Linked DNA regions of Homo sapiens: regions 1, 2, 3 and 5 are each linked to region 4. The links come from fine-mapping of genetic effects on gene expression. A gene starts in region 4. Each other region holds a variant in brackets. All regions are shown on one strand. Distances are between the middles of the regions. Region 1 overlaps TACC2 (transforming acidic coiled-coil containing protein 2). Region 2 overlaps TACC2 (transforming acidic coiled-coil containing protein 2). Region 3 overlaps TACC2 (transforming acidic coiled-coil containing protein 2). Region 4 holds the start of TACC2 (transforming acidic coiled-coil containing protein 2). Region 5 overlaps TACC2 (transforming acidic coiled-coil containing protein 2).

The links.
Region 1: its variant is fine-mapped to the expression of TACC2 in sun-exposed skin (GTEx, PIP above 0.99). The same link has a PIP of 0.9 or more in unexposed skin.
Region 2: its variant is fine-mapped to the expression of TACC2 in anterior cingulate cortex (GTEx, PIP above 0.99). The same link has a PIP of 0.9 or more in prefrontal cortex.
Region 3: its variant is fine-mapped to the expression of TACC2 in skeletal muscle (GTEx, PIP above 0.99).
Region 5: its variant is fine-mapped to the expression of TACC2 in tibial nerve (GTEx, PIP 0.99).

What each region holds. Positions count from the first base shown.
Region 1 is chr10:122,082,777-122,089,203 of GRCh38, reverse strand. TACC2 (transforming acidic coiled-coil containing protein 2) reads right to left here. Exons shown (of 23, transcript NM_206862.4): 4 at 1,245-6,427; 5 at 613-726. Among named protein-coding and RNA genes, the nearest start is that of TACC2, 97 kb to the right of the region's middle. RefSeq lists an enhancer at 3,237-3,738. The variant C/T (reference allele first, on the strand shown) is at 3,508.
Region 2 is chr10:122,023,644-122,030,070 of GRCh38, reverse strand. All of the region lies in intron 2 of TACC2 (transforming acidic coiled-coil containing protein 2), which reads right to left. Among named protein-coding and RNA genes, the nearest start is that of TACC2, 38 kb to the right of the region's middle. The variant G/C (reference allele first, on the strand shown) is at 2,637.
Region 3 is chr10:122,075,305-122,081,731 of GRCh38, reverse strand. The region is part of intron 3 of TACC2 (transforming acidic coiled-coil containing protein 2); the gene reads right to left. Among named protein-coding and RNA genes, the nearest start is that of TACC2, 89 kb to the right of the region's middle. RefSeq lists an enhancer at 4,127-4,628. The variant G/C (reference allele first, on the strand shown) is at 2,669.
Region 4 is chr10:121,985,617-121,992,043 of GRCh38, reverse strand. It overlaps TACC2 (transforming acidic coiled-coil containing protein 2), which reads right to left and starts at 2,881. Exons shown (of 23, transcript NM_206862.4): 1 at 2,556-2,881.
Region 5 is chr10:122,163,563-122,169,925 of GRCh38, reverse strand. All of the region lies in intron 7 of TACC2 (transforming acidic coiled-coil containing protein 2), which reads right to left. Among named protein-coding and RNA genes, the nearest start is that of BTBD16, 100 kb to the left of the region's middle. The variant T/G (reference allele first, on the strand shown) is at 3,710.

The DNA.
Region 1 (6,427 bases), 97 kb before region 4:
CACTGTGAATATACTACAAGCCACTGAATTGTATGAGTGAATTATGTGGTATATGAATTGCATCTCAATAAAGATTCTTTTCTTTTTTTGAGACAGGGTCTCTGTCACCCAGGGTGGAGTGCAGTGGCACAAACACGGCTCACTGCAACCTTCACCTCCTGGGCTCAAACGATCGATCCTCCCAACTCAGACTTCCAAGTAACTGGGACTACAGACACGTGCCACTGTGCCCGGCTAATCTTTGTATTTTTTCTAAAGATGGGGTTTCACCATGTGGCTGGTCTCAAACTCCTGGGCTCAAGTGATCTTCCTGCCTCGACCTCCCAAAGTGTTGGGATTACAGGCATGAGCCACCGCACCCAGACTGACTTTTTAAATTTAAGGTAATAAACTCAAGTATGAAAGCAACTCATTCAATCCCTTTTCCAACAATGGAGCTTTTAGTCATCCCAGGTACTGCTGTACCTGTACATAAAACGGGAATGGCCATTTGCTTCTTTCTTATGTAGGAACTCATGCTGTATAAGGACTACTCTCCTTTCCAAAACATCCAGTGTGTCTGTATCTAAGGAAGGCATCATGGCCTTCCAAAGACCAATATCTTTCGCTGACCTTTCTGTTCCTTCCGCACCTCTGGTCTCATCTGAAGTGACTTTATCCATGACTCTTGGAGCATCCTTCTTAGGAACCGAAGGTAACATGGATGGGCCAGGCCTGGGGCTCTCTCTGGGATAATAAAAGAAAGCAATTAATAGGATAATGTAGATAGTAAGGCATTTCTCCTCATGTCCTATTGAAAAAGCAGATTTCTCAATTAAAGTTTTAAGTGGCTACTACAAAAAAAAAAATCCCTAGGAAAAAGGGCCCCCTGACTAAATAAATCCAGATTCAAAAGCAGATGTATCTGGACTCCAGAAAAATATATGACTGACTATAACCTATCACTTAATAGTACACAGCCAGCCAGTAAACAGTTGATACTTTTCCAGTGGTTTAAGTTAGATGAATTAAGGAACACAAGAAAAAGAACATAGTCAACAGCTCCCAGCCTCCAACCATGGTTCTCACATTTTTCAGAGCCTCAGGACATCCAGAGGGGGTAAGCAGGTTCATTTAGCAATTAGATATGGAAAACTCAGCTTTTAGAAAACCACTCACCTATGCGACTGACTTCTAAAAATCAGGCTGGGAATCACCTTTGAAACTGACCACACATTCCCGTGGGAATTTTTTCATTTAAGTACCTGTCAGTGTGGAGCTCTTCTGGAGCCAAATGTTGCAGCTTCGGGTCGTGAGTTTCGTCAGGCTCTGGAGGTGAGGAGACGCACACCTTCCCATCCCCAGCTGGAATGGGGCGCTCAGGCCCTGGCTGCTCCTTAGCCTGCTGGGGCCTGGCTGGGCTGTCCCCATGAAGGGCAGCTGTACCCTCCATCCCCGGAGCCTTGTCAGAGCAGGCTGGGTCCTGACAGCTTCCTGGCAGCACCAAGTCACCTGCCACAACGGAGAATGTCCTCGTAGTACCTGCTTCAGGCAGATCACCGGACGCACATGCCTGTGTCTCAGCTGTGCTCAGGGTGATGTCACCCTCTGCTTCCCCAGCAGCGCCTGCCACCTTGCCAGGCTCCAGGGGAGTGTCTGCCACTTCTCCAGTTGGTGGTGCAGGGGTGCTCTGGTTGCCCAGGGCATTTCGCATTTCCAAGATGCCAGCAGTGACTCCGGGTCTCCTTTCACCCCCAAGCGTGTCAAGGGTCCAGGGCTCACTGTTGGCCTCAGGCACAGTCAAAACCTCCCTCTGAGGAGAAGGGGCACACGTGGACCTTGGCACATGTCCTGGAACCCCTGTGTGAGCAAAGTCCCCGGGACCATCTTCTCCATGTGGACTGTCGCAGGCAGATGTTTCCTGGTGCTGCTTTCCAGAAGGAATTCTGTCTTGGGCCACGGCCTCTTCTCCATGGCTATGGGGAGCCACCTGGAAGGCAGCAGCTCTCTCCACAGGGAGCTCCTGAGTAGCTGCTGGTGAAGGAAGACCTGAAGCTAATTCCTGCCTGCTCCTCTCCAGCTGTGAGTAAGCCTGGCCTTCCAGGCCTGGCCAGGCTGCCCCAGGCCCCTCTGGCCTCTCGTCTTCCCTCAGTGTGGGTGGGACACCTGCCATCTCCTTCCCCACACCGGCACCTGGCAAGTTCCGCTCCCAGGTCAGCCCTGCTGGACCCAGAAGCTTGTCTGAAGCTGGATCTTGCAGAGCCAGATGGGAAATCTCAGCCTCTCCAGCCAACTGTTGCTTCTTCTCCACCTGGAGTCGAGCAGGAGGTGCAGGGAGAAGGGTGACATCCACTCCTGGAGGCCCATCTAGAAGCTTCTCTGGGCCCAATGGCCTGGTGAGGTCTTTACCCACTGCACTCCTCCCAGCTCCTGCCTTTTCTCCAGGTGTGGCCAGGGCTCCGAGCACAGGCTTCTCGAAGATCTTGGCGATGTGCTCCCTGAAGTCTGGGAAGCCAGTGAGGGTGGCGATTTGCTCAGAGCTTGTGTCCACACCACCTGATGTGCCCTGCTTTGGGTCCTGGGAAGGCTCTCCCATCCTCTCCATGCTGCCCTCTGTCTCTCCTGCTGCATCACCTGCCATGCCCTCCCCACTGGCCTTGGCACCTGCACCTGGAGCTGTTGCTGCTTTCTCTTCCCCTGTTGCCTGCTTGCCCTTGGCCAGAAGTGGCATCCGGTCCAGGCATGGCATGGAGTCCACTGGTCCCTCAGTGGTTCTGGCTTTGGGACTACCACTGCTGGCTTGCACTGCAGGGATTTCCCCACCTGCAGCTCCTGGTTGCAACAGGGGGGCGAGGGAGCCAGCAAACAGCTTCAAGGAGGCAGCATTTTCCAAGGCAAGTGGGGGCTCCCCTACAGGACAGGGGCTTTCGCCAGGAGCTCTGGGGTCTGCAGAGGAAACAGCTTTCACTCCACTGTCTTCTGCTCCTCTCTGGGCAGCACTGTCGACATGCAGGTAAGGGGTGTCAGGAGCAGCCACTTCTGGTGGCCCAGACAGCAGGAGCTCCTTTGGGTCTGGGACAGCCTGGTGTGTAGAAAAATCCATGGTGCTCCTGGGAATCCCACCCAGCTCTCTGGCTGGCAGCAAGGCATCCTGGCAGCTGGCCATGGGGTGCTCAGCTTGGCAGGACTCACGTAGGGCAGAGGTAGAAGCTTCCTCCCCGGAGGTAAGGCAGTGCTCAGTCTGAAGGAGGCCACAACTCAAAGTAGCTTCTCCAGGTTTCTCCGGAGCCTGCTGCTTTCCTGGGTCTCCTGCACCAGCGCTGCCACCAGTCTCAGCAGCCCCGGCTTCACCACCTTGCTCCCCAGCTGATGGGAAACTTGCAAGAAGCTTTGGGGACTCTGCATCCGAAGTGGCCCAGCACTCCATTTTCTGCTGCGGGGCCGGCACTGGTTGCTGCCTGCCTTCCTGGGTTTCATCACATGCCTCTGTCTCTGGGGCATCCTGGGTGGGTGTGACTCCGGGGCTGG[C/T]GGGCGCCAGGGCTGGCAGGCAGGGAACTGCATCCAGGAGAGCTACTGAGTCAGGCTGACAAGGTGGGGCCTCCCCTGTGTTTCCACTTGCCATCTCCCTCTTACTCAAGCCCCAGAGTGGGGAACAACCATCAGCTGCTTCAGAAGCTCCTGGATGCCTTTGACATGCTTCTTCATGCTGGCTGCCTTCTTCCAAGGCATCAGCCAATGCCTGTTGAGACTTGTTTGGCCCCTGCCCAGTGCAGCAAGTTTCCTTTCTGCTGAAGTTCCCTGCAAGAGAAAAGTCTTTTAAGACATCTGCTGCTGGAGGCGAGACCCTCGAGGACTGACCATCACCGCATGCTCCCTCTGGCCGCTTCTCCCCTAGTGCAGGCAACTTCTGTCTCGTTGGTGCTGACAATTCTGACTCTTCTGTCAGAGAACTCTCCCAAACCATGTCAGTGGGAGATGAAGTTGGAGTATCAGACAGGGTGCCTTTGGGGAGCTGACTTTGAAGTTCTGATCCCAAAGCCTGCTCCTGTCCTCCATGAGTGGGCAAGTTGTTATCTTCCTGAGGTTCCACAGGTACATGGATTTGGGAAGAATCTGCTCCCTGGTCCTTAAAACCTGGATGGCTTGGAGAAGTCTCTTTCCCATTTTCAGGTGGCTGGGCCTGCTCCTTGAGCACGTCAAAGATGGATGTCTCTGGTTGTGCCTGGGATGGCTGGAGATGCTTCTCAGAAGATAGTAGGGGCCACTCGGATGCAGCTCCTCTTATCCAGCCTTCCCCTGGGCAGGATGGGATTCCCTGCTGATCTTGGTCCAGGATGAGTGCCGTGAGCCCCAGGTCTGCTGCCAAGTTCTCCCCCTGGGGGGGATGTGGCACCCCAGCATGAAATTCCTGTCTCGACGCATCACACGCCGGCCCGCGGGGTTGATCTGGGGACGTCAGCAAGCCCTCCCCATCACAGCTGCCCATCTTCCTTATTTCCAATGTGCTCTCACCTTCCTGGGCTTTGGGTGCAACCTCTGCAACAGGAGTTGGTGGAAAATCTGATTTCTCTGATTCTAAAGTCAGGAAAGACTCCATTCTTCCCAATCCTTCCCTGCTCTGAAGGGTGTCAGGACATTTGGGCTGCAATCCTGACCCCTCCCAGATGGCTCCTTCGGGAACAGTGGGCTCACCAGCTCCATCTGGCACAGGGGGCAGGACGGGGTCCTCCTCACCCAGCTTGTGTGGTAGGCCAGATGCATCAGCCTCTGCTGTCTGAGAGTGGGGCCCGTCCGTGTGCCCAGCACCCCCCTTTCTGGGTGGCTGTGCTGAGTGTGAGCTGGGATGGTCTCTGCTCTCTGCATCACTGCTTGGCTTTGAAAGCTCATCTTTGCCTACTTCTGGATCACGCTTGCTGCTGAAAGCCTGAGAGTCCTCTCCTTGCAGGTTCCCTGGGTCTCCACCATCAGGTGGCTCTGGGGCTTCCTCCTTTCCTCCAGGGCTGTCACCAGGTGATCTGCTTCCTTCTTTAGCCACGGCTGGGCTTGTGGAATCTTCATGGACCTTGGCTCCATCCGTTGGCCCCGGTGGCCCTCTGGCACTTTCACTTGGTGCCTTGGGAAGAGGAGGGGGTGGTGCTCCTGGTTGGACCTCATGGCTTTGCTCCTTGGGAAGAGGAGGGGGTGGTACTCCTGGTTGGACCTCATGGCTTTGCTCCGTGTTCAAGTGCTCTCCCCTCTCCTGGGGTGATGGGGCAGGAACCTCTCCAGGGTCCCCTTCTGGATGCTCTCCCTTGCTTCCAAGATCTGACACCTGCCTCTCCAGTCCCACCAACCCTGCATCCACCACCTCTTTGGCTGCATCTGCAGAAACTGGCATCCCAGCCTTGGAAACTGATTCCCTGGATGATGATCCAGGTTCTTCTACAGCAATAGGAATCTGAGCAGCTGGGAATGAAGCGAGGCTTGAAGCTGGATGTGCTTCCTCAGTCGGAGTGAGCAGGGAAGGTTCAGGGCTCACAGGCAAACCCCCTTCGGGCTGGCCGCCTGCTGCCACACAGACAACTTGATTGGGCTTGGTTCCTCGCATCCCTGTCTGTGGGTGACCCTGAACATCAATGGTGTCCAGAGCCTCCTTCCCAGAGCCCCCAGCCTCTGGCACCAGGGCAGGACTTGGCAAGCCCCAGGGCAGCTCTGCGTGCGGCAGATATGCTCCCACTGGCTGCTGGCAGCTCTCCTGGGAAGCGGCATTCACTTCTGCTTCTGGGGCAGCCCCTGAATTGCTCCTAGGGAGATGGCAGGCCCTGAGGAATTCCAAGTCATCTGTTAAATACTGAGGCGGCGCCTCCCCTTGGCCTCTTTCTCTGTCTGAGGCTCTTGGGGCTGGATCTTGTGGGATCGGGGCCATGGGTTTTAGGGGGGACTTCTCCAAGACCGCTGAGCTTTCTGTGCCCTGCTGGGCTGCAGCAGGGGCCTCAGGGGTCACTTGCACAGAAGCCACCCCCTGCCTGGACTCTGCAGGGGGAAAGCCACCTGCAGCCTCTTTCTCTTGGGACTCAAAACCACCAGGCTGGTCCCCCTCTCCACACAGCGGTGCCTTCATTGGCTCTCTGAGGGGTACTGGCGACATTCCAGGTGACTGGTCGATGCCACTGGAGAAGGAGAAGGAGGACTTCTGTCCTTCTTCCTTCGGCTGTCTCTCTCTTCCAGCACTGGGGACGGCAGCAATCTCTTGGTATGGAGTAGAGCTGTCCCTCTCAGCGGGAAATGCCGCCGCGATGTCTCCTGGGGCATTTGGGGCAGGTTCCCTCCTGGGAGACTGAGTCTGAGGACCATCTTCAGGTGCCGCTGCTGGACTTGCCAAGCAACCTTCCGGGGGACACTCGGCAAAGGGCATGGAGGACGAGGGGTGCTCTCGCTCCTGGGACGGTGGTGGGCTGGGCAGCAAAGA
Region 2 (6,427 bases), 38 kb before region 4:
TCTGTGCATTGTAGAATACTCTGCAGCAACACTGACCTCTACCTACCAGATGCCAGTGGCACCCCATCTCTGAGTTGTGACAACAAAAACTGTCCTGAGACATTGCTAAATGTCCCCTGAAGCACAAAATCACACACCTCCCACCCTCCCCACCCCCTGCCCACCGCTCTATCTTGTTTGCAGCCAGTAGTGGGGCCTGCAGGGAGCTTGAGGTCCAAAAGCATCCCTAAGACCCCAAAGAAGGGGTTGAACCTGAGCTGCTTGGTTTGTTAATGAGCAGGACTAAAGGCCAAAATATGCCTAGTGGCCCATACTGTGCACATTGAGGGCGCTCACCCGATAGCTATGCCCTTCTCAACTCTAAAACACAAGACAGAACATTCCTTTAAGTGGAAATTACTGGGAGGCGTGCCCGAAGCCAACCCCAGCCAGCAGGCACATTCGTTTGGCCCATAGAGTGCTTAAAAATAATTGAAATTAGTTGCCAACATTTTTTTAAAATGTAAGATTTCTTTACACAATCTCTTCTAGAAAACAGAACAGGAGCAAGCACTTCCCAACTCATTTTGTGAGGCTACTATTACCCTGATACAAAAACCAGACATAAAAGAAAACTACAGAGCAATATTTCTTACGAATTTAGATACAAAAGTCTTCAACAAAGTGTTAGCAAATTGAATCCAACAATGTGTAAAAATAATTATACCAGGCTGGTTCAACATTTGAAAATCAATCAGTGTAGTTCAATATATCAACAGGCCAAAGAAGAAAGATCATACAATTACATCGATTGATGCAGAGACGGCATCTGACAAAACCGAACACTCATTCATGATAAAAACCCACAGCAAACTAGGAATAGAGAACTTCCTCAACTTGATTACAAGCATTATGTTTAACAACAAAATTACAGCTAATATCTTACTTAACAGTGAAAGACTGAATGCTTTCCTCCTCAGACTAGGAACCAGGGAAAAATGTCCCCTCTCACCGCTCTTGTTTAACACAGGACTGAAAGTCCCAGCCACTGTAATAAAGAAGAAAGACGGGAAGGGAAGGGGAGGGGAGGGGAGGGGAGGGGAGGGGAGGGGAGGGGAGGGAAGGGAAGGGAAGGGAAGGGAAGGGAAGGGAAGGCGAGGGGAGGGAAGGGAAGGGAAGGGGAGGGGAGAGGAGGGGAGGGGAGCGGAGGGAAGGGAAGGGAAGGGGAGGGGAGAGGAGGGGAGGGGAGGGGAGCGGAGGGAAGGGAAGGGAACAGAAGGGGAGGGGAGAGGAGGGGAGGGGAGGGGAGCGGAGGCAAGGGAAGGGAACAGAAGGGGAAGGGAGGAGAGGGGAGGGGGAAGGAAGGAAGGAAGGAAGGGTATACAGGATGGGAAAAGAATAAATAAATAAAACAGCCCCTATTTGCAAATAACGTGATTACATACATAGAAAAATCCCAAGAAATCTACAAAAACAAACAAACTTCTTGGAACTAATAAGTGAGTTCAGCAAGGTCACAGGATACAAAATCAGCATGCAAAAATCAATACATTAATAATGAACACATGAATAGCAAATTTAAAAACATGACACCATTTACGGTCACTCCAAAGAAAACATAATACTTAGGTATAAACATCATAAAATATATGCTGGATCTATATGTTGAAGATTACAAAAAATGATAATGAAAAATAAAATAGGCTTGGTGTGGTGGCTCACGCCTGTAATCCCAACACTTTGGGAGGCCGAGACAGGCTGATCACCTGAGGTCAGGAGTTTGAGACCAGCCTGGCCAACATAGTGAAACTCTGTCTCTACTAAAAGTACAAAAATTAGCCGGGCATGGTGGCATGCACCTGTAATCCCAGCTATCCAGGAGGCTGAGGCAGGAGAATCGCTTGAACCCAGGAACTGGAGGTTGCAGTGAGCTGAGATATCACACCACTGCACTCCAGTCTGGGTGACAGAGTGAGACTCCATCTCAAAAAAAAAAAAAAAAAAAAAGAAAGAAAGAAAGAAAAAAGAAAAAAAGAAAAGAAAACAATGGGCCAGGCGCAGTGGCTCACGCCTGTAATCCTAGCACTTTGGGAGGCCGAGGAGGGCAGATCACAAGGTCAGGAGATCGAGACCAACCTGGCTAACACGGTGAAACCCCGTCTCTACTAAAAATACAAAAAATTAGCTGGGCATGGTGACAGGCGCCTGTAGTCCCAGCTACTCGGGAGGCTGAGGCAGGAGAATGGCGTGAACCTGGTAGGCGGAGCTTGCAGTGAGCCGAGATCACTCCATTGCACTCCAGCCTGGGCAACAGAGTGAGACTCTGTCAAAAAAAAAAAAAAATCCCAGAAAGTATTGTGTAGAGATGGATAGATTTATTCTAATATTAATAGGGAACGTCATAGGTGCAAGAACAGCAAAAACAATTTTAGAAAAGAATAAAATGAGAAGACTCACTGTACCTGATTTCAAGCCTTATTATATAGCCACAGTAATCAAGATAATCAATGGACAAGAATAGCAAACCCAGAAACAGAGCCACACAAATATGCCTAGCTGATTGCTGACAAAGGTGCAGAAACAGTTTAATGGAGGAAGAATACTCTAACAAATGTTGTTAGAAAGATGGACATTCGTAGGTTAAAAAAAAATACACA[G/C]ACACAAAAATGAATCTCAACCTCAAGAGAATAAGAAGACAAGCCACAGGCAGGGAGAAATTATTCGCAAAAGGCACACTTTATCCAAAATATACAAGAAACTTGTAAAACTCAATAATAAGAAAACAAACAACCTAACTTTAAAATGGGCCAAAGACCTGAACGGACACCTCACCAAATGAGATATACAGATGGCAAATAAGTGTATGAAAAGATGTTCCACATCCTATGTCAACAGAGAAATGCAAATTAAAGCAACAAGATACCACTATATACCTATCAGAATGACCCAAAATCCAGAATACTGACACCACCAAATGCTGGGGAGGATATGGAACAGGAACTCCCATTCACAGCTGGTAGGGACGCAAAATGGTACAGCCACTTTGAAAGACAGTTTGGTGGTTTCTTACAAAACTGAACATACTCCTATATGATTCAGCAATCACGCTCGCTGGTATCTACCAAAAGGAGCTGAAAACAATGTCTGCACAAAAATCCGCACATAGATGTTTATAGTAGTTTTATTTATAATCACCAAAACTTGGAAGCAACCAAGATGTTATTCAGTAGATCAATAAACCGGTACATTCAGGCAATGGAAAATTATTCAGTGCTAAAAAGCAATGACAAAGCAATGAAAAAACATGCAGGAACCTTAAATGGACATTACTGAGTGAAAGAAGCCAATGTGAAAAGGCTACATACTGTAGGATCCAACCGTATGACATTCTGGAAAAGGCAAAAACCCTGTAGACAGTAAAAAGATTCATGGTTGCCAGGGATTGAGAGGTGTGGGAGGGATGAGTAGGTGGAGTCCAGAGGATTTTTAGGGCAGTGAAACTACCCTGCATGATACTATTCCTTTGTCCAAACCCAGAAAATGTGCAATACCTAAATCGTGTACCTCACACAAAAATTAATTCAAAATGAATCATGCACTCAAAAATAAAATGTAAAACTTCAAAACTTTTAGCCAAAAAAAAAAATAGCAGAAAATCTTCAGGATGTTGGTGTAGGCAGAGTTCTTAGGTTTGATACCAAAAGCAGCACCCCTAAGAGCAAAAACTGATCAACTGTACCTCATCACAATTATACTTTTTTTTTTTTTTTTTTTTTTTGAGACAGAGTCTCACTCTGTAGCCCAGGCTGGAGTGCAGCTCACTGCAAGCTCCGCCTCCCGGGTTCATGCTATTCTCCTGCCTCAGCCTCCCGAGTAGCTGGGAGTACAGATGCCCCCCACCATGCCCGGCTAATTTTTTTTTTTTTTTTGGATTTTTAGTAGAGACGGGGTTTCACCGTGTTAGCCAGGATGGTCTCCATCTCCTGACCTCATGATCCGCCTGCCTTGGCCTCCCAAAGTGCTGGGATTACAGGCGTGAGCCACTGCACCCAGCCTCAAAATTATACTCTTTTGCTCTGTAAAAGATGCTCTTAAGAGGACGAAAAGACATGTTACAGAATGGAAGAAAATATCTGCAAACTATGAGCTGACAAAGGATTAGTATCTAGACTATATAAAGAACTCTGAAAACTCTTTAAAAAATAATAATAATAATAGGCCGGGGTGCAGTGGCTTACGCCTGTAATCCCAGCACTTTGGGCAGCCGAGGCGGGTGGATCACGAGGTCAGGAGATTGAGAGCATCCTGGCTAACACAGTGAAACCCCATCTCTACTAAAAATACAAAAAATTAGCCAGGCATGGTGGCAGGCTCCTGTAGCTCCCAGCTACTTGGGAGACTGAGGCAGGAGAATGGCATGAACCTGGGAGGCGGAGGTTGCAGTGAGCCAAGATCGCACCACTGCACTCCAGCCTGGGCAACAGAGCAAGACTCCATCTCAAAAAAAAAAATAAAATAAATAAAAATAATAGGCCGGGTGCAGTGGCTCAAGCCTGTAATCTCAGCACTTTGAGAGGCTGAGGTGGGCGGATCACGAGGTCAGGAGTTCAAGACCAGCCTTCCCAACATAGTGAAACCTCGTCTCTACTAAAAATACAAAAAAATTAGCCAAGCATGGTGGCATGCGCGTGTAATCCCAACTACTCAGCAGGCTGAGGCAGGAGAATTGCTTGAACCTGGGAGGCAGAGGTTGCAGTGAGCCAAGATCATGTCATTGCACTCCAGCCCAGCTGACAGTGCAAGACTCTGTCTCAAAAAATATATATATGAATAATAATAATCTAGTTAGAAAATGGGCAAAAGGCATAAAGCAATTTTTCACCAAAGAGAATATGTAGATGGCAGATAAGCACATGAAATGTGTTCAACATCTTTATCCATCATCAAAATGTAAATGAAAACCACATGGAAATATTACAACACACCTATCAGAATAGCAACACCAAAAAGTGACACCACCAAATGACAGCCAGGGTCCAAAGACCAGATCCCTCATACGTTGCTGGTGGGAATGAAAAATGCTTTAGCAACTCTAGAAAAGTTTGTCAGCTCCATATCAAACTAAACATGCAACTATCATACAACCCAGCAACTGCACACTTGGGCGTTTATCTTAGGGAAATGAAAATGCGTGTTCTCAAAAAACACCTGCACACACATGTTCATGACAGCTTTATCTGTAAAAGACAAAAACTGGAAACAACCTAAATGAGCTTTAATGGATGAATGGTTCCACAAAATGTACAGTACATCTATTCCTGGAATACTATTCAGCAATAAAAAGGAATGAACTGTTGATACACACAGTACTTGGATAAATCTCAAGAGATTTATGCTGAGAGAGAAAAAAAGCCAATCCTTAAAGATCACTTACTGTGTGACTCCATTTATATAACGTTCTTGAAATGATAAAATTATAGAAATAGGGAACAATAGGGAATAGGAATAGTGGTTGCCAGGGGTTAGGGATGAGAGGAGAGAGAGGTGGGTGTGGCTACAGAAGGGCAACAAGAGTAATCCCCTGGTGACGGGCATGGTCTGTTATCTTGACTGTATCCGTGTCAGTATCCAGGTTGTGATATTGCATTATAGTTTGGCAAGATGTTACCCTTGAGGAAAACTAAGTAATGGTACATGGGACCTCTCTGTATTCTTTCTTTCTTTATGAGACAGGGTCTTGCTCTGTTGACCTGGCTGGAATGTAGTAGTGCAAACATGGCTCACTGCAGCCTTGACCTCCCAGGCTTAAGCAATCCTCCCACCTCAGCATCCTGAGTAGTGAGGGCTACAGGTGTGCACCACCACACCCAGCTAATTTTTTTCCTTGGTAGAGATGGGGTCTCCCTATGTTGCCCAGACTAATCTTCAACTCCAGGACTGAAGCTATCCTCCTGCCTCGGCCTCCCAAAGTGCTGGGATTAGAGGTATGAGCCGCCGTACTTGGGCTCTCTGCATTGTTTCTTTAAGCTGCATGTGAATCTACTAATATCTCAAAATAATAAGTTTAATTTAAAAACTTAACATTTCATAGAAAAATATGGGTTTCCAAGTTCTTTTGAACTCAGAACATTGGCACCACCTTCCCACAAGGCAATCACCCACTGGAGCTGATGGTGGCTTCCCTGTTTAAGACAGTAGGACAAGAACTCCCTGTTTGCCAGAGCACTTGCCTGTCCCTGTTGTCTCACACCCAGTCTTTTTTTTTCCCCCCCCTCAGGATTTCTTTTTTTTTTTTTTAATTATACTTTAAGTTCTAGGGTACATGTGCACAACGTGCAGGTTTGTTACATATGTATACATGTGCCATGTTGGTTTGCTGCACCCATTAACTTGTCATTTACATTAGGTATATCTCCTAATGCTATCCCTCCCCCTCCCCCAACCCCAC
Region 3 (6,427 bases), 90 kb before region 4:
TTAACTTGAACACTTATCTGGGTAATGTGTGGCGAAAAAAAGTGAAACACTCAGGGAACTTGGGGGAACTTGGCTCTGAATTTTGAACTTACTACAGATAACTAACTATCCAGTTATTATAAAATGGCTTATTACATGATGTATTTGGACTATGTTGCTCAATTCTACACAGTTTTAATGCTGTGCCTTTTTTTTTTTTTTTTTGAGACGGAGTCTCACTCTGTCACCCAGGCTGGAGTGCAGTGGTGCGATCTCGGCTCACTGCAAGCTCTGCCTCCTGGGTTCACGCCATTCTCCTGCCTCAGCCTCCCGGGTAGCTGGGACTGCAGAAGCCCGCCACCACGCCCAGCTAATTTTTTTTTTTTTTTGTAGTTTTAGTAGAGATGGGGTCTCACCATGTTAGCCAGGATGGTCTCGATCTCCTAACCTCGTGATCTGCCCGCCTCAGCCTCCCAAAGTGCTGGGATTACAGGCGTGAGCCACCACGCCTAGTCAATGCTGTGCAATTTTTAATTTTAAAAATAATATGTGGCCAACACAAAGTGTGGAAAATGTAGGAAAAAAAAATCAGAAAAAATACTGCTACATGCTTGCCACTTTCAGAGTTCTAGTGAATTTCCTGATTTTTCCTACACAATTGTTTGGGGGTACAATTCTTGTTATTTTTACATAATTGTGATTCTATATACTTGTTATGATCATATATATTCTATTAACAAGAGAAATTCCTCAAGACAAAGTTAACATAAGTATGGTTTTTCTAAAGCTTTTACCATTTTCTTTAAAGTTATTATAGGGGAAATATCAAAGGAAAATTTATGGAATCTTTTTGTAACTGTTTGTTACATGCACACATATTCACACACACATAAGCCCACAGCGTTCTGGAGGGGGCTAGTGGAAAGATTCTCCTCTCAATGTCCGCTACCAAAATTCCAGTTTTCCACACCAGGCAGTGCACATGCATTCATACATGAGGGATGCATACAGTGAGATGGTGAAGTGCATTATTGTTAAATTTTTAAAATATGTGCTATGAACTGAACTGTGCCCCCCTCAAATCCATATGTTGAAGCCCTAATCCCCAATGTGACTGTATTTGGAGGCAGGCACTTTAAGGAGGCAGTTGGGATTAAGTGAAGTTATAGTAGTGAGGCCCTAATCTGATAGGACTGGTGTTCTTTATAAGAAGAGGAAGAGGCCGGGTGCATGGCTCACACCTGTAATCCCAACATTTTGGGAGGCTGAGGCAGGCAGATCACTTGAGCTCAGGAGTTCAAGACCAGCCTGGGCAACATGGCGAAACTCCATCTCTAAAAAGAAATATGAAAATCAACTGGGCATGGTGGTGCACACCTGTAGTCCCAGCTACTCAGGAGGCTGACGTGGGAGGATCACTTGAGTGCTGGAGGTTGAGGCTGCAGTGAGCTGAGAACATGTCACTGCACTCCAGCCTGGGCAACAGAGTGAGACTCTGTCTCAAAACAAAAAAACACAAAAAAAAAACAAAAAAAAAAAAAGGAAAGGAAGAGACACCAGGAATGCAGATACACAAAGGAAAAGCTATGTGAGAACATCAAAAGCAGGTGTCTTCTGCAAGCTGGGAAGAAAGGCCTCACCAGAAACCAACTCCACCAGCACCCTGACCAGGACTTCCAGCCTCCAGAACCAGGAGAAAATACATTTCTGTATTTTAAGTCACTCAAGTTGTGGTGTTTTCTTATGGCAGCCCGAGCAGACTAATACCATAGACAGGTGGGTATTTACTGTCCCATCCTTTCAACATTTTTGAGGTTTCAGTTTTTCCAAAACAAAAAGTTGGGAAAATAATAACAGATGAAATTCACTAGGCCTCAGTGCTTTGTGTGGATTATCTCATTTAGCCCTGCCAACAGCTGTGCAAGGTGGGTACCACCCATGCCATTTGCAGATGAGAACCCTGGAGAACAGAGGCTAAGCATGGATCTCAACATGGACATCTGATTCCACTGGACACAATCTTCTTATTCACTCTGCTATGCAGAATAAAAACTTCCAAGGAAGGCAAGAGCCTCTTCCCCCAGCCCCATTCCAGCCTCTCTGTCCTGCTCCTCACCTCTGAAGTACACGCGGCGTCATTTGACATCCCTGAAGGAGGCATGTACACAGAACCACCCCTGCACTCATCTTTATCTAATGCCTGTTCCTGCACATAGGACATGGGAATGGTGCCTGAGGACCCAAAAGAGAGCTGGCTACTGTCTCAACCAGATTTGCATTTTCTGACCCAAAAGCAGAGCTGAGTAGGCCAAAAAAGAGAAAACTCAGAGGGTAAATTATATAAAACCCTCCGATTCACAAATGGTCACGGAAGACAGATGGGCCCATGGAGAGCCCTGGCCCGAGTGGGCTGACATCTGGAAAACTACTTGGGGTTTGGATAAAGTGTCTTGGCCTGGCTTTCTGGAAAGCACCAGGTCCAGAACGAAACCCGATGCCTCCTCCCCCACCCTTCGCTGCTCAGCATCTGGACCTGGCAATTTTCCTTGTAACAAGCACTTTACATTTCATTATGTCCCACCCATTAACTGAAGTCAAACAGTTTAGTATGTGATAAGAGTAATGGTGTGTAATTCAGAAATGAAGTGCTCCTATTTATGTCGGCTTTATCAAGCTGGAAAGAAACGAA[G/C]CCACTTTCTTGTCCACGCCTCTGACAGGAACTGCCAACTTAGGAAAGGATGTGGCTTCCCTTCAGGCTGGCTGAAGTCGTTACCATCTGGAACAAGATGATAAATTATATTTTGGCATCTTGTAAACTTGTGCGGTCTTATCAGAAAGCAACCAGGAACAAATTTTCCATGGAGTATGGGACACACAACAACTCCTCCCAAATAAGAACCCAGACATTGGTTTATTTAGCATAAGCTGGGTACCAGCAATCTCTTTGATTATCCATCAGAAGTAATTTTTAAAGCCAGATTAAAGCTGCTCACCAGGAGCAGATCTGCCTAAGGGCAGGAAAAATTCTAAGAACTGATCTGTTGAGGGCTGTGCATTAGTTGAAGCTTACATAATATCCTTTTATGCTTCGAGATTGAGTTGAAATGTGTGGGATAGAGCCTCTGCTCAGAATCCGCAGGCCAGCACCCCGAATGGAAGCCTTTCACCCTCTGGGGGCACTGCCTCTGTGTGGAGGTCAGGGAGGGCCCAGGGACTAGAGCCTCCATCACAGACCAGATGTACACAGCACAGTGAAGGGAGAAGCATGGGCAGGGGCTGGCAGGGGGTCATCTGCCACAACCAAGGTCTGAGCAGATGATGGGGATGCAGATGGGTTCTTAAATGCATAGTTCTGGAAACACACACACATGCAATGCTTAAAGGGAGGAAGGAGGCCAGCTACAGAAAACACAAACATGGCCCCTGCACGACCAGGTTTTCAGGAGTCGGCAAAACCATAAAGCAAAGCCGTAAAGATAGAGAGTTGCCATGTACTAAACACTGACTCAGGCCAGACCCTCTGGGCACTTTTTTTTTTTTTTTTTTTTTTTTTTTTTGGAGATGGAGTCTCGCTCTGTCGCCCAGGCTGGAGTGCAGTGGCACAATCTCAGCTTACTGCAACCTCCACCTCCTGAGTTCAAGCAATTCTCCTGCCTCAGTCTCCCGAGTGGCCTGGACTACAGGCGTGCACCACCATGCCCGGCTAATTTTTGTATTTTTAGTAGAGATGGGATTTCACCATATTGGCCAGGCTGGTCTCTAACTCCTGACTTCAGGTGATCTGCCCGCCTCGGCCTCCCAAAGTGTTGGGATTACAGGAGTGAGCCACTGAGCCTGGCCTGGGCACTTTTCAGTTACGATTGCGCTTAATCCACACAACAGCCTGGTAGAAGGGTGGCCCCATTGTACACACAAGGACATTTTCCCGAAGAAGTTCAAGACAGGACCCAGGGTCAAAGAGCCGGTAACGCAAAGCAAGATTGAGCCCTGTGGCGCTGCCTCCCGTTGCCTTGTACTGGCTGCCTGCACCAGCCTCTCACCGAACAAGTGCAGCATTCCCTTCTCCCATCCTCTCTGGCCCCCTTCATTCTGTTCTGCCAGCTGTGGCCAGACCAACAGCTTAGAAATCAAAGTCTGCTCCTGTCACCCCACTGTGGCTTCGCTTTGCTCTCAGTTGTGGCCCCAACCTCCCTCTCCTGCCTCATTCCGCATGAAGCTCCCCAGCCATGCATCTGCCTGGAGCCTGCAGCCCTCTGCTCCCCACCAGGTTGCAGCTCCACTCTTCGCTTCTCAGGGTAGCCTCCCTGGCCTGGGCTCCCAGATCAGTTTCTTTCACAGGCCCACCTAGCGCTAGTCATGGTTCCCATCACTATGGTTGGTGACTGTTTTCCCTATTGGAGTGTAATGGAGGCCAGGTCCTAGTCTCCTTTCAATATCATATCCCTGGTGCCTGGCATATAACAAACAATAAAATGTTGTTGATATATGAATGTACGAGTGAGTGCCAGGATGGATGGCTAGAAGGATGGACAGAAACAACTGAACCCAAATCAAGGATACTAAATATACAGAGATGCACCCAAATCGTGGTTGTTTCACTAGAAGATTATGAACATTCTTTTTTTTTTTTTTTTTTTTGAGACAGAGTCTCACTCTGTCACCCAGGCTGGAGTGCAGTGGCGCAATCTCTGCTCACTGCAACCTCCGCCTCCTGGGTTCAGGCAATTCTCGTGTCTCAGCCTCCCGAGTGGCTGGGATTACAGGCCTTTGCCACCATGCCCAGCTAATTTTCATATTTTTAGTAGAGATAGGGTTTTGTTATGTTGGCCAGGCTGGTCTCGAACTCCTGAGCTCAAGTGATCCGTCCGCCTTAGCCTCCTAAAGTGCTCGGATTATAGACATGAGCCACCGCACCCGGCCCAGATCATGAACATTCTTTTCTTCCATCAAGCATAGCATTCCAGTAATTCATTAGTCCAAACCTCTCATTTTACAAATGAGGAAACTGAGGCCCAGAAAAGGCAAAGTACTTTTTTTTTTTTTAATACTTCTGTGAAACAAAGTTAAGGCAGCACTTCTCAATCACACACCTCTACACTCACTGGTAGGTCTAATGTGTCAGGGCATGCACTGCAAGTAATTTGTGACTAATTATAAAGTACTAAAGCCTGTGAATGATTTGTTATTTTCATAAATTACTATAATTCAAAAGATTAGAAGATTTCCTAACATAACATCATCACTGCTACTCGTTGCATTCCGGTGTGCCTTCTGGAAAAGGAAAGCCGGGGTAGAATGAAAGCCAGTGGGTTAGTGCAATGGATTGAATGAATGTTTTCCCCTTCAAACTCCCGCTGAAACTTAATCCCCAAACTTAATCATGTTGAAAGGTGGGGGCCTTTAAGAGGTGAAGGTGATTGGGTTGTGAAGGCCCTGCCCTCAGGAATAGGTTAATCCATTCATGGATTACTGGGTTATCATGGTGGCTTTATGCAAAGAGGAAGGGAGACTTGAGCTAGTATGCTCATTTCTTTTACCAGTGATGTCCTGCGCCACCTCATAACTCTACAGAAGCCCCACCAGCAAGAATGCCCTCACCAGGAGCAGCCCCTTGCCCTTGGACTTCTCAGCCTCCATAACCGTAAGAAATCAATGCTAGGTGCAGTGGCTCACGCCTGTAATCCCACCACTTTGGGAGGCCGAGGTGGGCGGACCACCTGAGATCAGGAGTTCAAGACCAGCCTGGCCAACATGGTGAAACCCTGTCTCTACTAAAAATAAAAAAATACAAAAATTGTGGTGGCAGGCACCTGTAATCCCAGCTACTTGGGAGGCTGAAGCAGGAGGATTGCTTGAATCCAGGAGGCGGAGGCTGCCATGAGCTGACATCATGCCACTGCACTCCAGCCTTGGGCAACAGAGCAAGACCCTGTCTCAACAATAAAAAAAAGAAATCAATTATTTTTCTTTATAAATGCTCCAGTTTCATGTATTCTGCGATAAGCAACAGAACACAGACTAAGTAAGACTGACTAGCCTCTGAGAACTGCCAACTCAAATAAATGTTAACAGAGGCAGCAGCTGTGGTGGAGATGAGAGGATTCGAGGACTGAAAGGTGATCCCCAGCTCCCCACATTCCTGCCTGGGCCCTCAAATTAGAGACTTTCCCAACACTTCTGAGTTCTCAGTGAAGTATGATGCTTCTGCCATATTCTTTGCCCCCTTATGGTCACGTCCATTGGAGGAGATTTCTCCGAGTGGTGATATGGGGAGAGCCAGCCCCCGTGAGTCCAGTTTCCCCATGGGTGGGGTTAAGGTGTTCGAGGTCCTTGAGATGAACTACCACAATGCAGCCCCTTCTCCTCTCGCAGCTATTTGCCACGTGACGAGCTCCCTGGGCCAGCCTTCCCCATCCTTCATGGCACCTGCACTGATGCAGCTTGGGAC
Region 4 (6,427 bases):
AGGTAATTGAATCATGGGGGCAGGTCTTTCCCATGTTGTTCTCATGATAGTGAATAAGTCTCACGAAATCTGATGATTTTATAAGGGGAGTTTCCCTGCACAAGCTCTTTCTTTGCCTGCTGTCATCCATGTAAGATGTGACTTGCTCCTCCTTGCCTCCTGCCATGATTATGAGGCCTCCCCAGCCACACGGAACTGTGAGTCCATTAAACCTTCTTCCTGTGTAAATTGCCCATCTTGGGCATGTCTTTATCGGCAGCATGAAAATGGACTAATGCAAATGGCTTTGAGATATAAAAAAGTTTTAAATTACACTAAAGTCACAAGTCAGAGTTCCAATGTCTGTAAACAACAGTGCAGTTCCCATGATCCTGATGAAAACCTGCAGACATCTCTGTATACCGGCTGAGATGGTGCCACCATACAGCAACAGTGTGAGTGCAGTTTCTATCATTCACTCAGCTGCTCAGCTTTGAAATGATTCTTGACCAAAACATTCATTCATTAATTAGCAAAAAAGACTTATTTTTAATTTGAGATGTGAACTATTTCAAAACTTGCTCATAAAGTCAGGTTTGATTAATGTTATTTTATTTCATATTAGTTCCTATTTGCCCAGTTGAAATACACGTAAACACAACCTTGCTGAAAATCACTAGCATGTGGCGGACAGCGCAAAGAAAACAAAACATTTCCCAGGCAATGCTTAGAGCTCCTGATTATTTAAAAGCTCTGAGGGGAAAATAAATTTAAAGTAATGTTTGAAATGACAGTAAACAGGTGGATTTATAAAAATAAAAATATACAATGTTTAAGGTTCATTTATCTCCATACATAAAATAAATAAATAAAAGCCCTCTCTTTACTGAAGAAGACAGAACACACAAATGCAACTCCTTTCCTTTAAGAGACTTCATTAAAATGATAACAAAGGCATTTTTAAAAACAAGTAGGTCCAGATGAGGCGTAGTGGCTCATACCTGTAATTCCAGTACTTTGGGAGGCTGAGACAGGTGGATCACTTGAGGTCAGGAGTTTGAAACCAGCCTGGCCAATATGGCAAAATCATCTCTACTAAAAATACAAAAATTAGCTGGGCGTGGTGGCAGGTGCCTGTAATCCCAGCTACTCAGGGGGCTGAGGCAGGAGAATCGAGTGAACCTGGGAGGCAGAGGTTGCAGTGAGCCGAGAAGGCAACACTACACTCCAGCCTGGGTAACACAGCGAGTCCCTGTCTCAAAAACAAACAAACAAACAACAACAACAAAAAAACAGGTATGTCCAGACAATAATGTAATAATGTGGCAAACTGGAGAAGGCACATTAGCTGATGAGAGCTTTCTCCATGGTTGTGGGTAATGGAAAGCAGTGACGGCCTGGTAGTTGAGGAATTAGGGCAGAGGGGCATTAGACTAGAGTAGAAGGGGCTCCAGCCAAACAAGACTCTGCAGACCCTGGAGAGGGTCTGAAACACCAGGAACAATGGTGGGAACGTACTTGGGCAGAAAATTAAAAATAAGTGTCAATGGAATCTACCCTTTGCCCTGCCTGGCCCCGTGCCATAAGACAAAAACAAAATTGAAAACGAAAGCAAAACCTTTCCTATATCCTGATATTTAAAATTCTGGCAGTGTTTGGTGGCTCATACCTATAATCCCAGCACTTTGGGAGGCTGAGGCAGGAGGATCACTTGAGCCTAGGGGTTTGAGACCAGCCTGGCCAACACGGCGAGACCCCCATCTCTATAAAAAATAAAAAATATTAGCTGAATTTAGTGGCATGCACCTGTAGTTCCAACTACTTGAGAGGATTGCTCCTGGTGGGAGGATTGCGTTAGCCCGGGAGGTCGAGGCTGCAATGAACCATCATTATGCCACTGCACTCCAGCCTGGGCAGTAGAGCAAGACCCTGTCTAAAAAAAAAAATCCACAGAAGGTTGAAGGTAAATTTAATAAAATATCTCAAAAAACAGAATTAAAGAAATATTTAAAATATGAAAAAATATTAAAGGTCTGGAGAATCAAACTGTGAGGTCCCTATCTAAGTGACGGGAGATGCAGACATGACACAGAAAAGTAGAAGGAAGAAAGTGTCGAGGTGGTAACATAAAAATATTTCCCATGCTGCACATGCTGGCATGTGCTTGTGGTACCAGCTGCTTGGGAAGCTGAGGCAGGAGAATCACTTGAGCCCAGTAGTTCTGGGCTACAGTGAGCCATGATCATGCCACCGCACTCTGGCTTGGATGACAGAGTAAGAACCTATCTCTAAAAACATAAAAAAAAAAAATAAAATTAATTTAAAAAATAAAAATAAATCATAATTTTTTCCAAAGTTGAAAGACGCAAAAGGGCTCTCACTAGGTGCCTAGCACAGTAGATGAAAATACCTCATACAGTTCTGTGAGTTGGCTGGGCTCAGCCAGGCAGTTCTCACCTTGAGTGATGGTGCTCCCCAGCCACTGAACCTAAGAAGATAGGGTTTTCCTACCCTGTATTTTCAAGTAATGGGAATCAGAGCCAACTTCATTTTCCAGCCCTCTCCTCCTTACTTACCGCACTCCAGCTGTTACCAGTAGGGAATCTGATGTGTCTGCAGCAGCAACTCTATTCTTCCCTCCTCAGAGGAAAAAATTCGCCCAAGGGGCATAAGGTAGAGTAAGAAACCAAGATAACTTTTAGAGCAGGAGTGAAAGTTTTTAAAAAAGTTTTAGAGAGGAATGAAAGGAAGTAAAGTATACTTGGAAGAGGACCAAGCGGGTGACTTGAGAAATCCCAGTGCACTGTACAACCCTTAATGTGGGGTTTTATATGTTGGCACGGTTCTGGGATTTGCGTTTCTTCTCTCCTGATCCTTCCCTTGGAGCAGGCTGTCCACTTATGCAGTGGTCTGCCAGCACTTGGGAGTGGCCGCACTCACAGTGTGTTTACTGAAGTTGTGCGCGTGCTCATTTGAGGCATTTTTCCCTTGCCAGTCGAGAATTCCTAGAGGAAGGTCATATATTAGTTAAACTCTGACATTTTGCCCCTTAGGGCCCATGCTTGAGCCCACTTGCCCAACTCCTGAGATCTTATCAGGAAGCGGCTGACACTAGCTTCAGGTGTTTTCTATCTATTGGGAGCCGGCCTTTCCCTGGTGCTGGCTGCAACCAATGATGATTTTAGAGAAACAGTGTAACAACCACCTGACCATCACATGATGGTCGCCTGACATTCCTGGTTGGGGGTGGGGGTGGAATGCCCTCTGCTGCCCTTCTCATGTTCCCCTAGCTACCTACTCTAACACAGGTATGTATGCCTTTCTGAACTTTCTTGAATGTGTCAGACTTATTTTAACCCCAAAGACTTTTTTTTGCTATTGCCTTTGACTACAATATGACTTCCCTGTATTTTTGCATGACACATTACTCCTCACAATTCAAGTCACATCTCAAATGTCACCTCCTCAGGAAAGATGTTGTGCTGCTCATCACACCTAAAATAGCAACTTTCAGGTCGGGCACAGTGACTCATGCCTGTGATCCCAGCACTTTGGGAGGCCGAGGTGGGTGGATTACTTGAGGTTAGGAGTTCAAGACCAGCCTGGCGAACATGGTAAAACCCCCTCTCTACTAAAAAGACAAAAATTAGCCGGGCGTGGTGGCAGGTGCCTGCTATCCCAGCTATTTAGGAGGCTAAGGCAGGAGAACTGCCTGAACCCAGAGGTGGAGGTTGCAGTGAGCCAAGATCGCACCACTGCACTCCAGCCTGGGTGACAGAGTGAGACTCTATCTGGAGGGAAAGAAAAAATGCAACTTCTATTCTCCACCTATCCCTTTAGCCTATTTAAATTCTTCATAGCACTTACAATGACCAAATCCTTTTTTTTTCTTTTCTTTATTATCTGTCTCCTCCATGAGAGTAGGGACTTTGTCTTATTCATCATTATACAGATGGTTCTGGAGCCACCCAACAAGTTCTTCTTCCCCACTGCACAGACAAAAATCAATTCACTGAGACCATGGCATTGCAATAGAGAAAGAGTTTAACTGCCGCGAGGCTGAGCCCACGTGGGAGAACTGGAGTTATCCCTCAGATCAGTCTCCCTGTAGGCTCGGAACAAGGGTTTTTATGGACAATTTGGTTGTCAGGGGGTAGGGGGATAGTGCCGCTGATTGGTTGGGGATGAAATCATACCGGTGTGGAAAGCAGTCCTCATGCACTGAGTCTGCCTCTGGGTGGGGCCCCAGGACCTGTTGAGTCATGAGTCATGAGTCTGAGTGAGGTCAGTCTGAAAAACATCTTAAAAAACTCAATCTTGGCTGGGCGCGGTGGCTCACGCCTGTAATCCCAGCACTTTGGGAGGCCCAGGTGGGTGGATCACAAGATCAGGAGTTCGAGACCAGCCTGGCCAAGATGGTGAAACCCCGTCTCTACTAAAAATACAAAAACAAACAAACAAACAAACACCCCAATCTTAAGTTCTACAATAGTGATGTTACTTACAGGAGCAATTGGGAAAGTCACAGATCTTGTGAACTCTGGCCACATGACCCCTGGGCATTAAGGGACTATAGAAACTATGCCTACATTTTAGCAGAGTTCTGCCTTCTCCCATTATCCTATTCCTGTGGCCTTTCATTAGTCTTACAAAGGCGATTTTGGTCCCTGAGAAAGGAGGGGGTTAGTTTTAGGGAGGGACTATTATAATCTTTACTTTCAAATTAAACTATAAATTGAATTCCTCCCAAAGTTAGCTTGGCCTATGCCCAGGAATAACCAAGGACAGCTTGGAGGTCAGAAGCAAGATGAAGTCAACCATGTCACATTTCTGTTACTGTCAGTTCTGCAAAGGCAGTTTCCTTCCCTAACATAACAATAATTTGATGTAGATTTATCATAAGATGGCTCAAAAGAGAGAATGCATTCAGCAGAAACTGTACTTTGAGTATTCAAACAACTATTCTGTTTTTCAAATTCAGTACAGTATTCAATAAATTCTATGAGATTCAACACTTTGTCACAAACTAGGCTTTGTGTTAGGTGATTTTGCCCAACTGTAGGCTAATGCAAGTGTTCTCAGCACGTTTTAGGTAGGCTAGGCTATGCTACTTTAACAGCTACATTGTCTAGAGTATTTATGCTGGGGTTCCTTGTCTCACAATGAGAAAGAATTCAGGACACAGACACACGTGGGTGGGTTAAGAAGTAGAAAACTTAATAGAAGAAAGGAGAGAGAGAGAAGTCCAAAACGGGAGGCGGCGGACCGCAGCAGATTTTATAGGCAGGCTGGAAAAGGTGGTGTCTGATTTACGCAGACCTCATAGATTGGTACCATCAGGTATGACATTTACATAGCCCGCGAGGAAGACTGGCTGCCCCACCCTAATCTTATTATGTAAATGGACTCTCCAGTTGATCAGCACTATCTTGACTGCTCTTTAATACATTGTATGGTGGTCGACAAAGAGAAAGGAAGACAGAGCCACCATCTTGAACACATATAGTCCCTAGCTCCTGCCGGCATTCACCTGTGCAAGCTCCCAGCTTGCTTGTTTATATCTGCAGCTCAACTTTATAGGCTGCTCTTTGTTAAAAAACAATTTGGGGCTGCTTTTCATTAAGGATAAAAGCCTTACCAAGGACTTCCGTACCCTCACTATCTGCCCAAGTAATTTCTTCTTAACTCCCATATCCCTATGTTCAGTAGGTTAGGTGTGTTAAATGCATTTTCAACTTACAATACTTTTAACTTATGAAGAATTTACAGGGAGCACCTGTATCATTAGTGCCTAGAACATACTTGGAATGTTTGTTGAGTGAATGCTGGATCAGAATCTTGGCTGGGCATGATGGTTCATGCCTGGAATCCCAGCACTTTGGGAGGCCGCGGCGGGCAGATCACCTGAGGTCAGGAGTTTGAGACCAGCCTGGCCAACATGATGAAACCCCATCTCTACTAAAAATACAAAACTTAGCCAGGCATGGCGACCCGTACCTGTAATCCCAGCTACTCGGGAAGCTGAGGCAGGAGAATTGCTTGAACCTGGGAGGCGGAAGTTGCAGTGAGCCGAGATCACACTATTGCACTAGAGCCTGGGTGACAAAAGTGAGACTCCATCTCAAAAAAAAAAAAAAGAAAGAATCCATTTCAGGCAGACAATGGAACAATGCTTTTAAATTCCTGATGAAAAATTAGTTTCAGCTCAAAATTCTATATCCAGTCAAATCTTCAACTAAATGGAAAAGAAAAATAAAGACATTTTTTAGACTCATAAAACTAGCTTGCTTTACATCTCTTCTAAGAAAATACCTCAGCAAAACCAGGGCATAAACGAAACAAAAGTTTTAAACATGGAATCCAGAAAGCAATGAGTTTAACCAAGGATGGCAGTAAAGGGAAACCCCATGGTGACAACTGTGTAGCAAGACTGGAATAACAGCTCATC
Region 5 (6,363 bases), 180 kb before region 4:
TTTAAAAATTAGCCAGGCATGGTGGCGTGCACCCGTATTCCCAGCTACTCGGGAGGCTGAGGCAGGAGGATCACTTGAGCCTGGGAGATGAAGGCTGCAGTGAGCCATGATTGTGCCACTGTGCTCCAGTCTGGGTGACAGAGCGAGACCCTGTCTCAAAAAAAAGGAAAATTACAGTGCTCAGATGAGAGGGAAGGCTATAAATTGGGGCATTATCGGCACATATTATTTAAGTCCATGAGCATAAATGAGATGTCTTAGAGAGAGAGAACAGAAAACAAAGATTGCCCAGGCCAAAGGGGACATAAGTCTGAGCCCTGTACCAATCATCCGTATAACCAGGAATCAGCAAACTACAACCTGCAGTCTGTTTTTACAACTAAAACTCTACTGGAACATGGATTTACATGTTGTCTCTGGCTGCTTTTGAACTGTAACAGCAGAGATGCTGCACAAAGACGGAATGGCCCAGAAAGCCTAAAATATGTACTATGAGGTCTTTTACAGAAAGTTTACTGCTCCCTTAATTTAAACCATCCAGAGGACTCAGTTTCCTTATCTATAGAAGTCACCCACCTTGCAGGATTAAGGGATATAATTATTTCTATAATGAAAAAAACCTAGCACACAGACATGGTACACAAGAGTTTCTGCTGAATCTGAGCCTGCTCAGTGGGCTTTTCACTCCTGGCTTCAACACTGCAGCATCCAGCTGTTTCCATATTTGGCAATGGCGTTTAAACAGCACACACCTGCACTCCAGAAACAACTGCTAAAGTGAATTTGTAAATATAAACAGAAATGTCATCTGAGCTACTGCTTCCAACACAGGATAGATGTGTGTGAGCAGTTCTGACTCAGTCAGTTCTTTGTGGCCAACCAGTCTCCCCTAAACCCCTGTCCAACCTGAAACAAAGCATCAGTCCATGAACAATTGGTTTTCACAGAACAATTGCTTACAATGCCTAAGTCCTCACCATTAATCTTAAAGGGAAGAAACAGAATTGTTCAGCATCACTTGCTTACCCCAGAACACTGCCCTAGCTTGGGTAATCCATCTGCAAGAACAGCCAATCATGTTTCAGAATAAAGTTGTTTCCTAGGCAACCAAAAATCTAGCCACAGAAACAGGCTGTAGACAGTGGAAAGAAACACAGGGATGGGAATGGGAGGGTCGATGGAAGAGCAACCCAGAATCCACTGACCTTGATCTGATGTTCACCTGCAGTGCCACACTCAATCAGTATCCAAGTCCTAGCTGTTCACCCCATCCTCGACAGGGTACCCTGTCCCAGGGCCCTAGCATGGCATGGCCCCTTGGATGATTGGTAGCTACCTGGAGGACCTCGGAATATATTTGCCTTCAGCCCACCTAAGAGAAAGCCTCCAGGCAAGTCCCCCAGAGAAGATAGTGAAGGCCCAGGACCCTTATGAACACAGGCACAGGGCCACGCTGGTGATATCTAGGAATAATGGCAGGGAAAAATGCACCCAAGCTTCCTTTGGGAATCAATCTCCCCCTCCCACTCTACAGATAATGTTGCAGCTTATTCTATTTTAGGGGAGAAAAAACTCTATTGTGTCCAACAGTAATATCCAAAGTAAAATCTCCGTCCAGGAACTCAGAAACTGGCTGCAACTCACATTAGGAATGCTGTCGTTTAAGCTAAAGCATTTAGCCAAGGGCTGCCCCAAGAAACAAAGCCTTGAAAAAGATCTATGGCTGGGTGCGCTGGCTCATGCCTGTGATCCCAACACTTCGGGAGGCTGAAGCAGATGGCTCACTTGAGCCCAGGAGTTAGAGACCAGCCTGGGCCACATAGCAAGGCCCCTGTCTCTACAAAAAATTATTTAAAAAAAAAAAAAAAAAAAAAAGCTGGGCATGGTGATGTGTACCTATAGTCCCAGCTACTTGAGAGGATGAGGTAGGAAAATCCCTTGAGTCCGGAAGGTGGAGGCTGCAGTGAGCTGTGATCACACTGTTACATATGAGCCTGCGCAACAGAGTGAAACACTGTCTCAAAAAAAAAGAAAGAAAAAGAAAAAGATCTAATGAGAGCTAAAGAAAGAGTCCTGCTTAGAGCCCCAGCGACCGTTTCTGGCCTTCTGAGTGACTGAGAGGCTGGCAATTTCAGGCATAGGGCATTTCCACTTTTGCAGTTTTCTGGCACTTACGTCTTCTCAAGAGTCTTTGCAGATGTGGCATCTCACCTCTGAAAAACCCTGCGAGGCAGGAGGGGCAGGATCAGAGTCATCGGATTTTCTCTACAGCTCCCAAAGAAAAGGTCAGGAACCACATAAGGGAAGGGACCAGAACCCCACTTCTAACCACAGATGTGTGGAGAGCTCCAATCTCTCTACCTACTGCGGTGGTACCCGAGATCCTTCTTTTGCCTGGCCTCTCTCCAGCTACATCTGATCCCACCCACTTCTGAAATCTCAGCCAACTCATCAACTTCCCCGAACTAGCTCCCAATCCAGTTTTCTTGTCTGTCTTGGCCAATGCCACTTCTTTCTCTTAGTTACCAGGGTATGAAACTTCCATTTTGTACTTGCCACTGTCTCTTCTCTTCCCTCCCCCATCTCATCAATCACAGAGCCTGTTGCTTCCTCCTCCATCGCTTCTCTCCCATCCACCCTGGCCCCTCTACTTCGATCCACAGGTCTACAGAGTATGGGTTTCCATATTTGTGATTTGTTTTTTAGAGCCAAGGGCACGTGCTCACTTTGAGAGTAGGGCAACAGTCGGGGCAGGCCGACTTTGCCAACAGAACCACCGCTTTTGCTCTCTGATAATGGCCCCCTGGGTGGTTTTCAGTGGCCAGGGTGTGGGGATTTGGTGGAAGCTGAGGGAACCCCTGAAACGGGGGTCTCCAACTACATAAAGGACAAAGTACTTAATGCTGCCCCACTTAGCAGAAGCCACACCACATGGGGCTGCCACAGAATCAAGGGATGAACAGCAGGTCTGATCAATAGCTGCAGCCCACATTTACTCAAGTACTTCCTGTCCATTCCTGTGTCTCCTACCATCCATACTGAGAAATAAGTGTTTTCTGTGGGAGAATTCTCCCTCCCCTTGCTACTCATATTCTATTTAGAAACAAATGGTCACTATTGCTACAAGAACTTCTTTGCCAGATAGGAAAGGAGCAGTCAGAGAAGTGGCCAGCTGTTTCTCATGGACAGGATGGAGGGAAGACTGAACCAGCTCATGGCTTCTCAAATTTTGAGATGCCTACAAATCACCTGGGCATCTTTACAAGTCCCTGGATGAAATGGAGATTCTGATTCAGCTGGTCTGGGGTGAGGTCTGAGGCTCTGCGTTTCTAGCAAGCCCCTTTGGGAAGCTGATGCTGTCATGTGTGGCCGACCCTGGGAGTAGCAAGAGACTGGTCACCATTTGCACCTTCATCCTCAGGCTTCAATCCCCAGTCCCATGGGACTTCTGCTACTCCAATCTTGATGCCTGAGTTCTCAAAAGGGGAGATACAAAAGTCGCTCCCTCCCTAGCCCAATGCACTCCTGCATAGAATGAAGCTGTCAGCTGGAGCTACAAAAGCTGCCCAAAGGCACCCCAAACCTGCAATTGGAAGGAAAGAAATCTTAAAACTAAAAAATTTAAATTAAAAAAAAATCCTTCAGTCACTTCCAAATCCTCTATCTTTTGATTTCACTCTTACACCATGGCCCTCCTTAAGCCAGTCTT[T/G]CACAGGGAACCAGCAGAGAAAAAGGGAAACATTCACTCTAGATTCCGGTTGTCAGGAGCTGTCCCCCGCGGCAGGTGCGCACCCTGTGTTTGTCACCATCCCTGCAGCCCTGACGGCATCATCTTACAATGCAACCTCTTTCCTGCCATGGGCCCCACACTCTGTTGCTGTCTTGTGTATTATTCACGTGCATGCATTTTTAGCTGCATGGAAATACTACCAAGAAAGACCTGTGCCTGGGCAGAAAAGAGGCACTCTCCGAATATATATTTTTAAAACCTCTAGACTGGGAAAGAGCACATCTGCACTAGAAAAATAAGCCCCAGTTATTCAGAGAGCAGAGACGGGTTTTGAAGAGGACAGATGCTAGCAATGGCACTGGCCCCAAATATTTCCTCTCTCTCCATTTTTTTAGAACAAAAATGTTACGGGATGGAGGGTGGGATTTTGTGAATGAGTGAATATACTATCGTAAAGATCTATATTTAGAGACATTTCAGAGGCAGCAGTTCTAGGGAGAGAAGCCTCAGGCGGGGGCATATGGACCAACTCAACTGTGAAAATATTTGATAAACAGCTTCCATCACAATGTGGCCATTCAGCCTGAAATTTTATTTAAACACCACTATCCCAGTGGGCAGAACCTTAAGGGACCTTATCCAAAAAGGCACAGCTACCTAACAGAAGCTATCTAAACTCGGCCCTCAGCTGACGGAACACTGATCATTTATTAACTCAGCTGAAAAAGAGGGCGGGGACGTTAGGGACCGGCGAGCTGAATTTCCAATGACTGAGGAGCACATTTTCCCAAACGTACAGTCACATTGTCCTTTCTGTTTCCTAAGCTCTTCACTAGATAGGTCTGAGCCGTGAGAGTTGGCCAGTGCCTGTCACTGATTAACTCAATTCCACTATAGGGACTTGCAAAAAATAGGTTAAAGTGGTTCTTTTCTGCCTAGACTCGAGTTGTATTTCCATGCACCTAGCAACACTACACGTGCATGAGAAACAAGGCAGGCACAGCACAAGGATCATAACATTTAAAAAGAAAATCCTCAAACGCGATGTGCCTCCATTGTAAGACGATGCTTTCTCAAGCTACAGGGGTGAAGACAAATGATGGGTGCACACCTGCTCGGAAGAATGACTCCCTGCTAAAGAGCTGGAGCCCAGAAAACCACGAGGCTCAGCCTAGCATTACATCACTACGCCGAGCCAGCTCCTCACTGAAGCCCAGGGGTCGAGGGACCAGTGAGGAAGTACCCCCCGGGGCCCCATCCCTCCTACAACACACAGATCAATCCCCACCATCTTTTAATCTACACATCCATGACTCTTAAGAACCCACTTTACTACCCCTACCCCCAAGTCCCCAGAAAATACTCTTCTCTGAAACATAGTCTTCTCTCTGGAAAAGTGGGGGCAGGTGAGGCTGGGAGGTCCACTTTGGATACAAGCCTGAGTTGCTGAAATGCGACCCGGCCGGCAGACCCATTCAATACGCCCCATCGTCCAAACATGCCTGGGTAGGTAATGGAGACGACCATAACAGAAACGTGAATTCTAATAAACACTCGGCCAGGATAAAGGCCACTTCTGAGCACGTTAGCTCTGTGGTTGAGAGAAAAGATCGGATTCCTGGATCGATGCACAGTCAAGCACTGCCTCCACCAATGACAGGACGGTTCGGCCCTTTACTAATAATAGCAAGCGGCCTTGTCCTCGAGTGTTCACCAGAGTATGTGGATGATGCTTAGGCTAACTAGACGGAACGTCCACCAGAGCGCACCACGCCATCTGCCCAGCCACAAGCGCAGCTGCCCGGAAACTGGGCTGTCGCCCCGGGCACGGAGCTGCCACGCTCATGGGTTCTTCCTAGGAGGAGGCAGTCGCTGATGCCTGGCTGTTCCCTTGCAGGAAATACCACTGTGCCGGGGGTGCAGAGGAAAGATGCTGACGGCAGGAGAAGCCCCCCAGCCATGCACCCACTGCTGAGCGACCAAAACTGAATTCCAGGGAATCGTTTCTGCCCACAGCAGTAACTTGGGGCTACCAGATGCTCCTCCCAGAGCAGCCCCAGGTAAAGCTTTCCAAGGCTGCGAAGAACCCCAGGCCAGCCTGGGCTCCAGGTTGCACAGGCATTAGGAAAGGCGACACTAACAAAGCCCGGGCATCCTCTCCTCCTCCCCGGGAGACTCGGGGCGGCCCGGGCGGAGCACTTACATTGCCTCGGAAGCCTCCAGGTTCAGGTCGCTGGCTGGGGCTGGCTGCAGGGACTGCGACCCTCCCATCCTCGCTGTGCCCTGGCGTGCAAGCTAGCCGCGAGCGGGGCCAGCGTCCTGGCGCGATTCCTGCAGCCGGGAGCCGGGGCGAGCCGGCCGGCGGCCGGGGTTGCTGCACTGCAGAGGGGAGCAGCTGCGGGCATCCGTGGCGGCGGGAGCGGCGGCAGGGAGCTGCGACTCGCGGCCCGAGCCGGGGGCCGGGGGGCGAGCGCCGCGTATGTGTGCGCGCGAGTGTGGCCGGCGCGCGCCCGAGTGTGGCCGGCGTGCGCGGCTCTGCCCGGGGCGTGCGGGTATGAGCGTGAGCGCCGGTGTGGTCCGAAAGGCTCTTCTCTTAAACCCCCCGGCAGCCGGCTCCTGTGTGTGACACGATG